Linked DNA regions of Homo sapiens: region 2 is linked to region 1. Evidence: fine-mapped expression QTL. A gene starts in region 1. The other region holds a variant in brackets. All regions are shown on one strand. Distances are from middle to middle.

Region 1 (5,377 bases):
TTCAAGCAATTCTTCTGCCTCAGCTCCCCCCAAGTAGCTGGAACTACAGGGCGCACCACCATGCCTGGCTACTTTTTGTATTTTTGGTAGAAACAGGGTTTCATCATGTTGCCCAGGCTGGTCTCGAACTCTGGAGCTAAAGTGATTCATCATGCTCGGCCTCCCTAAGTGCTAGGATTACAGGCGTGAGCCACCTTGCCCAGCAAAATATTTAAAAATTAGCTGGACCTGGTGGTGTATGCCTATAGTTCCCAGCTACTAGAGGCTGAGGTGGAAAAATCACTTGAGCCAAGGAGTTCAAGATTGCAGTGAGCTGAGAGCACCTGGGTGACAGAGCCGGACCCCAACTTAAAAAAAAAAATTTAGGGTAGCCTGCTATCCCAGAAGCCTTATTTAACTAACCCCACTGAGCTCTCTATTCAGGTATCACCTAACCCACAACAAATAACCCCACCCTCCCTAATTTCATTTATTTTGTCCCCCCTCTCCATACTAACATTGTCGCTCAATATTTTTTTTTCGAATAATTTTTAAAAGTTAATTTTCAGCCAGGCGTTGTGGCTCATGCCTGTAATCCCAAGACTTTGAGAGGCTGAGGTGGGAGAATCACTTGAGCCTAGGAGTTTGAGACCAGCCTGGGCAACACAGTGAGACCTCATCTCTATAAAAAATAAAAATTTAGCAGGCTGTGATGGTGCACGCTTCTGATCCTAGCTACTTGGGAGGCTGAGGCAGGAGGACTACTTGAGCCCGGGAGGTTGAGGCTGCAACGAGCCATGATTGTGCCACTGCACTCCAGCCTAAGCAACAGAACAAAGCCCTTTCTCAAAAATCAAATACAAATTTTCTTCTCAACATAGACAGAGGAAAGAAAATGAATTAAAAGTTATTTTCCCTATTAAAAACTACCCAATCCTTATCTATCAACAATGAAAAAAGGCTAAACAGCAGCACCTGAAAAACTTTCCTTAGGTTGGATCTTTGACTTTTTATACACTGTTCTGGCTAGACACTTTCTGTTAAGTCTTTTTCTACGACCGAACTGCTATGAGATGAAATCGCCTGGATACTCACAATGATACAGCCTTCTATCCGCATATTCACTTGCTCATAGAGCCACACCTGAATCCGCGATCTCTGAAATAATCATAAAAGTGGAAACGTTAAAAAAAGAAAAATAGGGCCGGGCGCGGTGGCTCACGCCTGTAATCCCAGCACTTTCGGAGGCCGAGGGAGGTGGATCACAAGGTCAAGAGATAGAGACCATCCTCGTTAACATGGTGAAACCCCATCTCTACTAAAAATACAAAAAAAATTAGCTGGGCGTGGTGGCGCACGCCTGTAGTCCCAGCTACTCGGGACGCTGAAGCAGGAGAATCGCTTGAACCCGGGAGGCAGAGGTTGCAGTGAGCTGAGATCGCGCCACTGCACTCCAGCCTGGGCACAGTGAGACTCCGTCTCAAAAAAAAGAAAAGAAAAACAGGCCAGGTGCCTCGATTCACACCGTTCCCATACTTTGGGATGCCAAAGCGGAATAATTCGCTTTGTGGCCAGGTGTTCAATATAAGCCTGCGCAACATTAAGCAAGATCTCCCCGCCCCCCGCCCCCCAAAAAATTGAAGTATACAAAACCTAACCATTTTGGTCAAACGACAAGAGAAATATGGCTCCTAAAAAAATTGTAATGAATGTAAGTCAAAAGTTTTAACTAATTAGCCCATATCTAAGAATTATTCACCAATAATAATAACCTCAAAAAGAATTTTCATTTAATAAGTTCTATATTGGAACTGTATAAGCTAATAATTTTCCTGTGATTTTGGGACTCAATATTTCTTACTGCTTCTGGTCTCAATCTATTAAGAGTGAAAGTTTTTGACAGCATAGCACAAAGCAGTAATTTCTAATGACCAAGGGCTTATCTCCTGCAGCAAAATCCAGTTCCAAAACAAAGCCTTCTCATGTCACACACCTAACAACTAGGACAGGAGCCCTCAATTCAGGTGGTTAAGAATTATTATCACCTGAAATTAATGTTTTTCAGTTGTGTTATCACACTATAAAATTTAAGTTGCTAAAATTTCCCTCAAAGGAAAGCAGCTGCCACTAAACTCCTCTGAAGCTACCCCTTCTCTCTTCCTTTTTTCGTCTTTAAGTTTTCCCACAGGTATTAAACACACCACCTCTTGACATGGTTTAAGTTGGCTGGGTTTTTCTTCCAATGTTTCATCCTAAAGGGGAGAGGTTCCAATGTTCTAGCCATAATCACTACTAACAAAACTACTGATGCCCAAATACCATGGTCAAGTCTGCTAATAATACTTTTTGGAATTAAAAAGTATTTTTGATCTTGCAAAGTAATGGATACAATTCTTTGCATGTTGGGAAGTGGCATGGATACACACCACTTCATCACATTAGTGCTTTCTAAGTACTCCTTCCCCTCAATTACCCTCCAATCTCCAGTTACATCTATTTTTAAATTCTAGAACACAGCGATCGCTCAGGTTAACACAAAAAACTAAATCAGTTCACCTCTTATTTAAAAAGTAGTTACGAAACAAGCAACTTACGTACATTTTGTAAGTATCTGAAGATGAGGTTCTGCACCACAGTGGCTAAGGAAAAAATACAAAAGCAGCATAGACTCTGCTTCCTGAAACAACCGGACGACGCTATTCCCGTCTCACCTTTGTTTACTAAACGCGAGGTCTGGTGCTTACGCAAACAACAAGTGCCCAGCTGGGCATTCGTTACGGGTCTTCTAAAGACTAAAGAACATCCATTCCACTTTCATCCCCCTGGAGTTTCCCAAAACCGTTAACTCCCGTTTTCACTCCGCACCTGAAGTTCTCTTCCCTCCTTTTGCCGCGTCCATTCCTGCATTCCCCACGGCAGGGGTCCCCCCAAGACCACCTCCCCACCATCACGGTTCAACTACCCGCGCTTTCTTCCAGTCTTGGTAGCCCCGGGGGCTCATGGGATGTGGATCCGTACTCCACTATCCCAGGCCTGCCCTCAGCCTGCGCCTTCGCACCCCGTATTCTGACCCGAACCTCCTAGTCCTGACATCCTGCGTAGGATACGATGGGCTGCACCATAACCTTCTGCACTTTCTGACCCTGGCCACGGTACGCCATGGTGGAATTTCACAAAGAGCACACCCGCACGCTGCCTCTGAGAGCAACTTCCGGAATAAAGAACCGGAAGCGGAAGTGTGAAGGTCACGCGGCGGCATGGGCGGCTCCTGGGAAATGCCCCTCTAGCCATGAAGTCACGTTTCTTCGCTGCATGGCCTCCGAGGGAGGCCAAACTGAGGCGTCTGCGCTGTGGAAGGTGGGCCGGTCCTACAGCGCCACCTGGAGGGAGGCGGGAGGAGGTGCCTTCGGTTGTATAGTGGCCGTGGTAGGAGGAGTGCCGTCCTGTCTCCAATTTCTTTTCTTTTTTTTTTTTTGAGGCGAAGTCTCGCTCTGTCGCCCAGGCTGGAGTGCAGTGGCGCGATTTCAGCTCACTGCAACCTCAGCCTCCAGGGTTCAAGCGATTCTCCTGCCTCAGCCTCCCGAGTAGCTGGGACTACAGGCGCCTGCCACCACGTCCGACTAATTTTTTGTGTTTTTAGTAGAGACGGGGTTTCACCATGTTGGCCAGGATGGTCTCGATCTCCTGACCTCATGATCCGCCCGCCTCGGCCTCCCAAAGTGCTGGGATTACAGGCGTAAGCCACCGCGCCCGGCCTGTATCTCCATTTTCTGAGTTAGCTTGAAAAGCCAAAATCGTCCCAGTGTGTATCTCTATGTGTAAAATGAGTTAATTTCGTGCCTTTCCTAAAGCCTATTTTGCTGGAGTTTAGGCTTGATAGCAGCGTTGTGGTGGAAAGGGTAGGGCGGCAAGGAGCCCAAACTTCAGGCCTCCCACCTCTGGCAGTCGGCCAGAGGCGGTCTGCATTCCAAAGCCAGACGCCTGGTTCCCTCCAGTTACGGATTCAATTCTCATCCATTTCGTGGAGAGTTACTGTTCAGGTGGCAACTGAGGGTGGCGATTTACCAGGAAGACGCTGAAATCCACATGCTGGGCGCAAATCCAGCTCTTTTAGAGTTGGTGACCAAGGATAAATTACTCAGCCTCGCCATGTCTTGGCTTAGTTTCCAAAACGGAGATTATAGTAAAGATTAACTTTACTCAGGGGCTTAAAGATTCAATGAAATAATTGTCTATGTGTGCACACAGTTAGGCGTCAGCCAGTGTCAGAACATGTCCTTCCCTGGATAACACAGCTACTAAGTGGAGCAGCTGGAATTTGTAGGTGTGCCTGACCCCAAAGTCCACCTACCTTTCCATTGTGTCATGGCTTGTGGCCTGGCAGAGATTTCACTTAATTGGCATACACATGTTATAGAGGAGGAAACTGAAGTTTAGACTTTTGAAAGGACTTGCCTAAGGGAACACGGATTAGGGCAAATGGCAGAATCAAAATTAGCTTTTCTGAGGGCTTCTGTTTAATGGGGATAATAGTAATAACGACTTCAGAAAGGGGTTGAGTTGAAAGTGATTTTTAAACTACACAAAGCGGCCAGGCTCACGCCTGTAATCCCAGCATTTTGGGAGGCCGAGGCAGGTGGATCAACTGAGGTCAGGAGTTCGAGACCAGCCTGGGCAACATGGTGAAACCTTGTCTCTACTAAAAATACAAAAATTAGCCATGCATGGTAGCACATGCCTGTAATCCCAGCTACTTGGGAGACTGAGACAGGAGAATCACTTGAACCCAGGAGGCAGAGGTTGCAGTGAGCCGAGATCATGCCACTGCACTCCAGCCTTGGTGACGGAGCGAGACTCCGTCTCAAAAAAATAAATAAGAATAAATAAATAAATAAACTACACAAAGCTGGCAAATGCATGGGATAACTATTTCCTTTAAAAAATTTCAGCCAGGGCTGGGCACAGTGGCTCATGCCTGTAAATCCCAGCACTTTGGGAGGCTGAGGCAGGCAGATCACAAGGTCAGGAGTTTGAGACCAGCCTGGCCAATATGGTGAAACCCCGTCTCTATTAAAAATACAAAAATTAGCTGGGCGTAGTGGTAGGCGCCTGTAGTCCCATCTACTCAGGAGGCTGAGGCAGGAGAATTGCTTGAATCTGGGAGGCAGAGGTTGCAGTGAGCCGAGATCGCGCCACTGCACTCCAGCCTGGGTGACAGAGCAAGACTCTGTCTCAAAGAAAAAAAAAAAAAAATTTCAGCCAGGTGCGCGAGCTCATGCCTGTAATCCCAGCATTTTGAGAAGCAGAAGCAGGAGGCTTGCTCGAACCCAGGAGTTCAAGACCAGCCTGAGCAACATAATGAGACCTTGGCTCTACCAAAAAATTTAAAAATTAGCCG
Region 2 (5,377 bases), 200 kb after region 1:
CTCACCCTTGCTAGGCTGGAGTGCAGTGGTGCGATCTTGGCTCACTGCAACCTCCGTCTCCCAGGTTCAAGCAATTCTCCTGCCTCAGCCTCCCAAGTAGCTGGGATTACAGGTGCTCACACCATGCCCAGCTAATTTTTGTATTTTCAGCAGAGATGGGGTTTCACCATGTTGGCCAGGCTGGTCTCGATCTCTTGACCTCACGATCTGCCCACCTCGGTCTCCCAAAGTGCTGGAATTACAGGCGTGAGCCACTGTGCCCAGGCCTCCCCCCACCCCCCACCTCCGTTCTCTTCTTACTGCTCCCTAGGAGCCTATTCATCGGCTGTTACATTGAACTGGGACCTCATTTTTTATCTCCACCACCCCAAGTGATACATTCTCACCCCAATGGCGTGCATTCTCACGATCTTCCAACCTACTACCTTTTGTGATAGCTATTTTTATCCTCTTTCAACAACTGAAGGAACTGAGGCCTAAAGCTCTGCAGTTAACTTGTGGTGAAACTGGACCATAAACCCAGGTCCAAAAAACTCATGGTCTTGGCTGTTACATGATGTTTTGGCATTAGAGAGAAAAAATCTACCACATGGTAAAGGGAAAAGTAGCTTGGGTTGAATTTCAAATACTTGGATTGGAATCCAAGCTCTGTGACCTTGGACAAGTTTCTTTCTTTCTTTCTTTCTTTTTTTTTTTTTTTTTTTGAGATGGAGTCTTGCTCTGCCGCCCAGGCTGGAGTGCAGTGGCACAATCTTGGCTCACTGCAACCTCCAGCTCCCAGGTTCAAGCGATTCTCCTGCCTCAGCCTCCCGAGTAGCTGAGATTACAGGCACCTGCCACCACGCCCGGCTAATTTTTGTGTTTTTAGTAGAGACAGGATTTCACCATTTTGGCCAGGCTGATCTTGAACTCCTGATCTTGTGATCCACCTGCCTTGGCCTCCCAAAGTGCTGGAATTACAGGCGTGAGCCACCACACCCAGCTTTTTATATATTTTTTTTAGCAACAGGGTCTCACCCTGCCAACCAGGCTGGATGGAGCAATCTTCCCGCTTCAGCCTCCCCAGTAGCTAGAACTACAGGCTTCCCCCACATGCCTAGCTAATTTTTATTTTTATTTTTTGAGACAGGGTCTTGCTCTGTTACTCAGGCTGGAATGCAGTGGCATGATCAGAACTCACTGAAGCCTCAGCCTCTGGGCTCAAGTGATCCTCCCACCTCAGCCTCCTTTGTGGACTACAGGGGTGTGCCACCATGCCTGGCTAATTTTCAAATGTTTTTGTAGAGACAACGTTTTGCTGTGTGGTCTCGGCTGGTCTCAAACTCCTGGGCTCAAGTGATCCTCCCACCTCTGCCTCCCAAAGTGCTGGGATTATGGGTGTGAGCCACTGCACCTGGCCAGAAACTATAATTTTTAAATACCTGCTTTGGGCTTGTCATTCTGACATATATTACATGAAATTATAAAGATTAATGATTCAAAGTGATTAATACAAGAGCTACTCAAGAAATGGTAATCTTTATTATTTTCTTCGATATCACAACCATAAATTTTTTTTTAACTGACACATTTTCTATCATTTTCATTTGTGTTTCCTTTTCATTTTTCTTCCCCTCTGCTAGTTTGGAAGTTATATTATACCAAGTTTTTTAGTATTAGCCTAGAAATCTTAACATAAAGACTTCTAATAAGCAATATCTTTAATTTTTTCCCTAGAAAATATAAGGACCTTAGAACACTTAAACTCCAATTACTATATTCACCTTCTAATTTTTTTTTTTTCAGACGCAGTCTCACTTTGTCACCCAGGCTGGAGTGCAGTGGCGCGATCTCGGCTCACTGCAACCTCCACCTCCTGGGTTCAAGCAATTCTCCTGCCTCAGCCTCCTCAGTAGCTGGGATTACAGGCACACACCACCACGCCCAGCTAATTTTTGTATTTTTAGTAGAGACGGGGTTTCACCATGTTGGCCAGGCTGGTCTCGATCTCCTGACCTTGTGATCCACCCGCCTCAGCCTCCCAAAGTGTTGGGATTACAGGCATGGGCCACCATGCCTGGCCTTACCTTCCAATTTATATACTATAGTTACTGAGGATTTAAATTATATCTTCATTTTATTCCTATCAATTAGACATTGTTATATTTCTGATATTTCTTGTCTTTGACATCAATATTTAGATTTCACTCCATGTTTACCATTTTATTTGCTCATCATCCCGTCTTCGTTTCTTTTTCTTTTTTTCTTTTTTTTTTGAGACAGGGTCTCCCTCTGTTGGCCAGGGTGGAGTGCAGTGGCGCCATCATAGCTCACTGCGGACTGAATCTCCTGGGCTCAAGTGATCCTCCCACCTCAGTCTCCCAAGTAGCTGGGACTACAGGCCTGCATCATCATGCCAGGCTTTTTTTTTTTTTTTTAATTTTTATTAGAGATGAGGTTTCTCTATTTTGCCCAGGCTGTTCTTGAACTCCTGAGCTCAAAAGATCCTTTCATCTTGGTTTTCCAGAGTGCTAGGACTATAAGGCATGAGCCACAGTGCTCAGTCCATCATCCCTTCTTGAATCTTAGACTTTCCTTTTAGTACAGGCATACCTTGGAGACATTGCAGGTACGATTCCAGACCACTGCAATAAGGCAAGTTCCTGGTTATTTATTATT[G/T]TTTTGGTTTCTCAGTGCATATAAAAGTTATGTGTACACAATACTATAGTCTATTAAGTGTTTTTATGGTTAAAAAACACAATGTGACTACCTTAATTAAAATATATTTTGTGTTAAAAATGCTAATGATCGGCCGTGGTTCACGCCTGTAATCCTAGCACTTTGGGAGGTTGAGGGGGGCGGATCACTTGCGGTCAGGAGTTCAAGGCCAGCCTGGCCAACATGGTGAAACCCTGTCTCTACTACAAATATTTTTAAAAAAGGGTGACCCTTTCCTGTCCCGGCCTGCGTGGAGTCTCTGAGACCTTAAAATTGAGAGTGTTTTCGCACCTCAGGGGCTACTCCTGGTGGTTCTGCGCCTGTCACCATGCCACAGAACGAATATATTGAATTACACCATAAACACTATGGATACCGTTTGGATTACCATGAGAAGAAAAGAAAGAAGGAAAGCTGAGAGGCTTATGAACGAGAGGCTCATGAACGTTCAAAGAAGGCAAAGCAAATGATTGGTCTGAAGGCTAAGCTTTACCTTAAACAGTGTCATGCTGAGAAAATACAAATGAAAAAGACTATCAAGATGCATGAAAAGAGAAACACCAAACAAAAGAAGGATGAAAAGACTCCACAGGGAGCAGTACCTGCTTATCTGCTGGACAGAGAGGGACAATCTCGAGCCAAAGTACTTTCCAATATGATTAAACAGAAATGAAAAGAGAAGGTGGGAAAACGGGAAGTCCCTCTGACTAAAGTACATGCCCAGGGAGAAACAGACGTATTAAAAGTTGTTTGAACAGGAAAGAGAAAGAAGAAGGCATGGAAGAGGGTGGTTACTAAACTCTGCTTTGTCGGAGATGGCTTTACAAGAAAACCACCTAAATAAGAAAGACTGATCAGGCCAATATGCATTTCAAGAAAGCCCATGTATTACATCTTGAACTGAAAGCCACCTTTTGCCCACCAATACTTGGTGTAAAGAAGAATCCCTCATCCCCACCGTATACAACTGTGGGTGTTATTACCAAAGATATTGTCATTGAGGTAAATGTGAGCGAATTGGGCCTTGTGACACAAGGAGGCAAAGTTATTTGGAGAAAATATGCTCAGGTTACCAACAGTCCTGAAAATGATGGCTGCATAAATGCAGTCTTACTGGTTTGACAGCAATTTCATATATAATTATTGGGGACTACACACCAACTGAAAAAACTGCCATTACTGTAATGTTTCTACCAAACAGCCATATATGTCTGCAATCAAGAGATTTATTACATTGTAAACATTAAAATGGTCCAGTTTTATAAATGGTCTTTGTTTTGAAATCTGCTTAGACCCCATGTTCATAAAATTGAATGATTGAAAAAAAGCAAATATACAAATATCCTACTTCATCAATATCTGCATTTATGCGTGGGTATTCAGCAATTTCCTGAAAAACCACCAGTTCCGTTGAAAATGCCTTTCAAAAAGGTTAATACACACTTAATTATGTGTCTGAGAATTTAAATGAAGTATCTTCTACCTCGTTATTCATTAATCCTAAAAAGACAGCATTAATACAGATGTTAAGTTTACAGTGTTTACACTAAAAGTATGTGAGAAGACGCAAAGTTCAGAACTCTTAGAGAAATCTTTTCACCTGTGAAATCCTTAACTTCTGAATACCGCAAAGGTCTAGTGAATTCACATTCTAAACATTTTTTTCTTCCATTTACCATGTAGAATAATACCTACTTGGCACTGTTTTCTACTTGAATCATGAAAATGAAAAAAAATACTAAAGTCTTTGTACTTTCTTAGCATTTCTGTGTTCTAAACAGTATATTTCTAGTTTCAGAATGGTATTAAGAATTAGTTTAAGCAGCTCCAGCTAAGTTTTAAAAGGATAAAGAAGACTGCACTGATTCTCTGAGGAGAAACTTATTTGCAGTTAGATGACATAAAAAAGTAAGGTGTTAGGGTTGTAACTTGGTGAAAGCACTTTTGTGATCTGTGATATGTTGTGGCTTTAAGGATGGCTGTATATTATATTAATCTATAATCACCAAAAAAAAAAAAAAATAGCTGGGCGTGGTGGCACATGTAATCCCAGCTACTCGGGAGGCTGAGTTGAGAGAATCGCTTGAACCCAGGAGGCGAAGGTTGCAGTGAGCCGAGATCGCACCGTTGCACTCCAGCCTGGGCAACAGAGCAAGACTCCGTCTCAGAAACAAAACAAAACAAAACACAACGCTAATGATCATCTGAGCCTTCAGGAAGTGGTAATCTTTTTGCTGGTGGAGAGGTCTTTTCTCAATGTGGATGGCTGCTTGCTGATGGGTGGGGTAGCTGTGACAATTTCTTCAAATAAGACAACAATAAAGTTTGCTGCATTGATTGACTTTTTAGTGAGACTTCTCTATAACATATGATGCTATTTGACAGCATTTTTTCCTTTTCTTCCTTTTGTTTCTTATTTTATTTATTATTATTATTATTATTTGAGATGGAGTCTTGCTATGTTGCCCAGGCTGGAGTGCACTGACATGATCTGAGCTCACTGCAACCTCCACCTCCCAGGTTCAAGCAATTCTCCTGCCTCAGCCTTCCAAGTAGCTGGCATTACAGGAACGCACCACCACACCTGGTTAATTTTTGTATTTTTAGCAGAGACAGGGTTTCTCCATGTTGGCCAGGCTGGTCTCCAACTCTTGATCTCAGGTGATCCGCCTGCCTTGGC

What was found. PIP is the estimated chance that this variant, and not a neighbour inherited with it, causes the effect.
Region 2: its variant is the best candidate, but not a certain one, in a credible set for the expression of SNRPE in caudate (GTEx, PIP 0.51).

Annotation. Positions count from the first base shown.
Region 1 is chr1:203,859,423-203,864,799 of GRCh38, reverse strand. It overlaps SNRPE (small nuclear ribonucleoprotein polypeptide E), which reads right to left and starts at 3,201. Exons shown (of 5, transcript NM_003094.4): 1 at 3,087-3,201; 2 at 2,578-2,604; 3 at 1,075-1,137. The coding sequence starts at 3,140. RefSeq lists enhancers at 2,096-2,671, 3,057-3,316, 3,125-3,419.
Region 2 is chr1:203,655,409-203,660,785 of GRCh38, reverse strand. All of the region lies in intron 1 of ATP2B4 (ATPase plasma membrane Ca2+ transporting 4), which reads right to left. It also overlaps the pseudogene NSA2P1. Among named protein-coding and RNA genes, the nearest start is that of ATP2B4, 31 kb to the right of the region's middle. The variant G/T (reference allele first, on the strand shown) is at 2,659.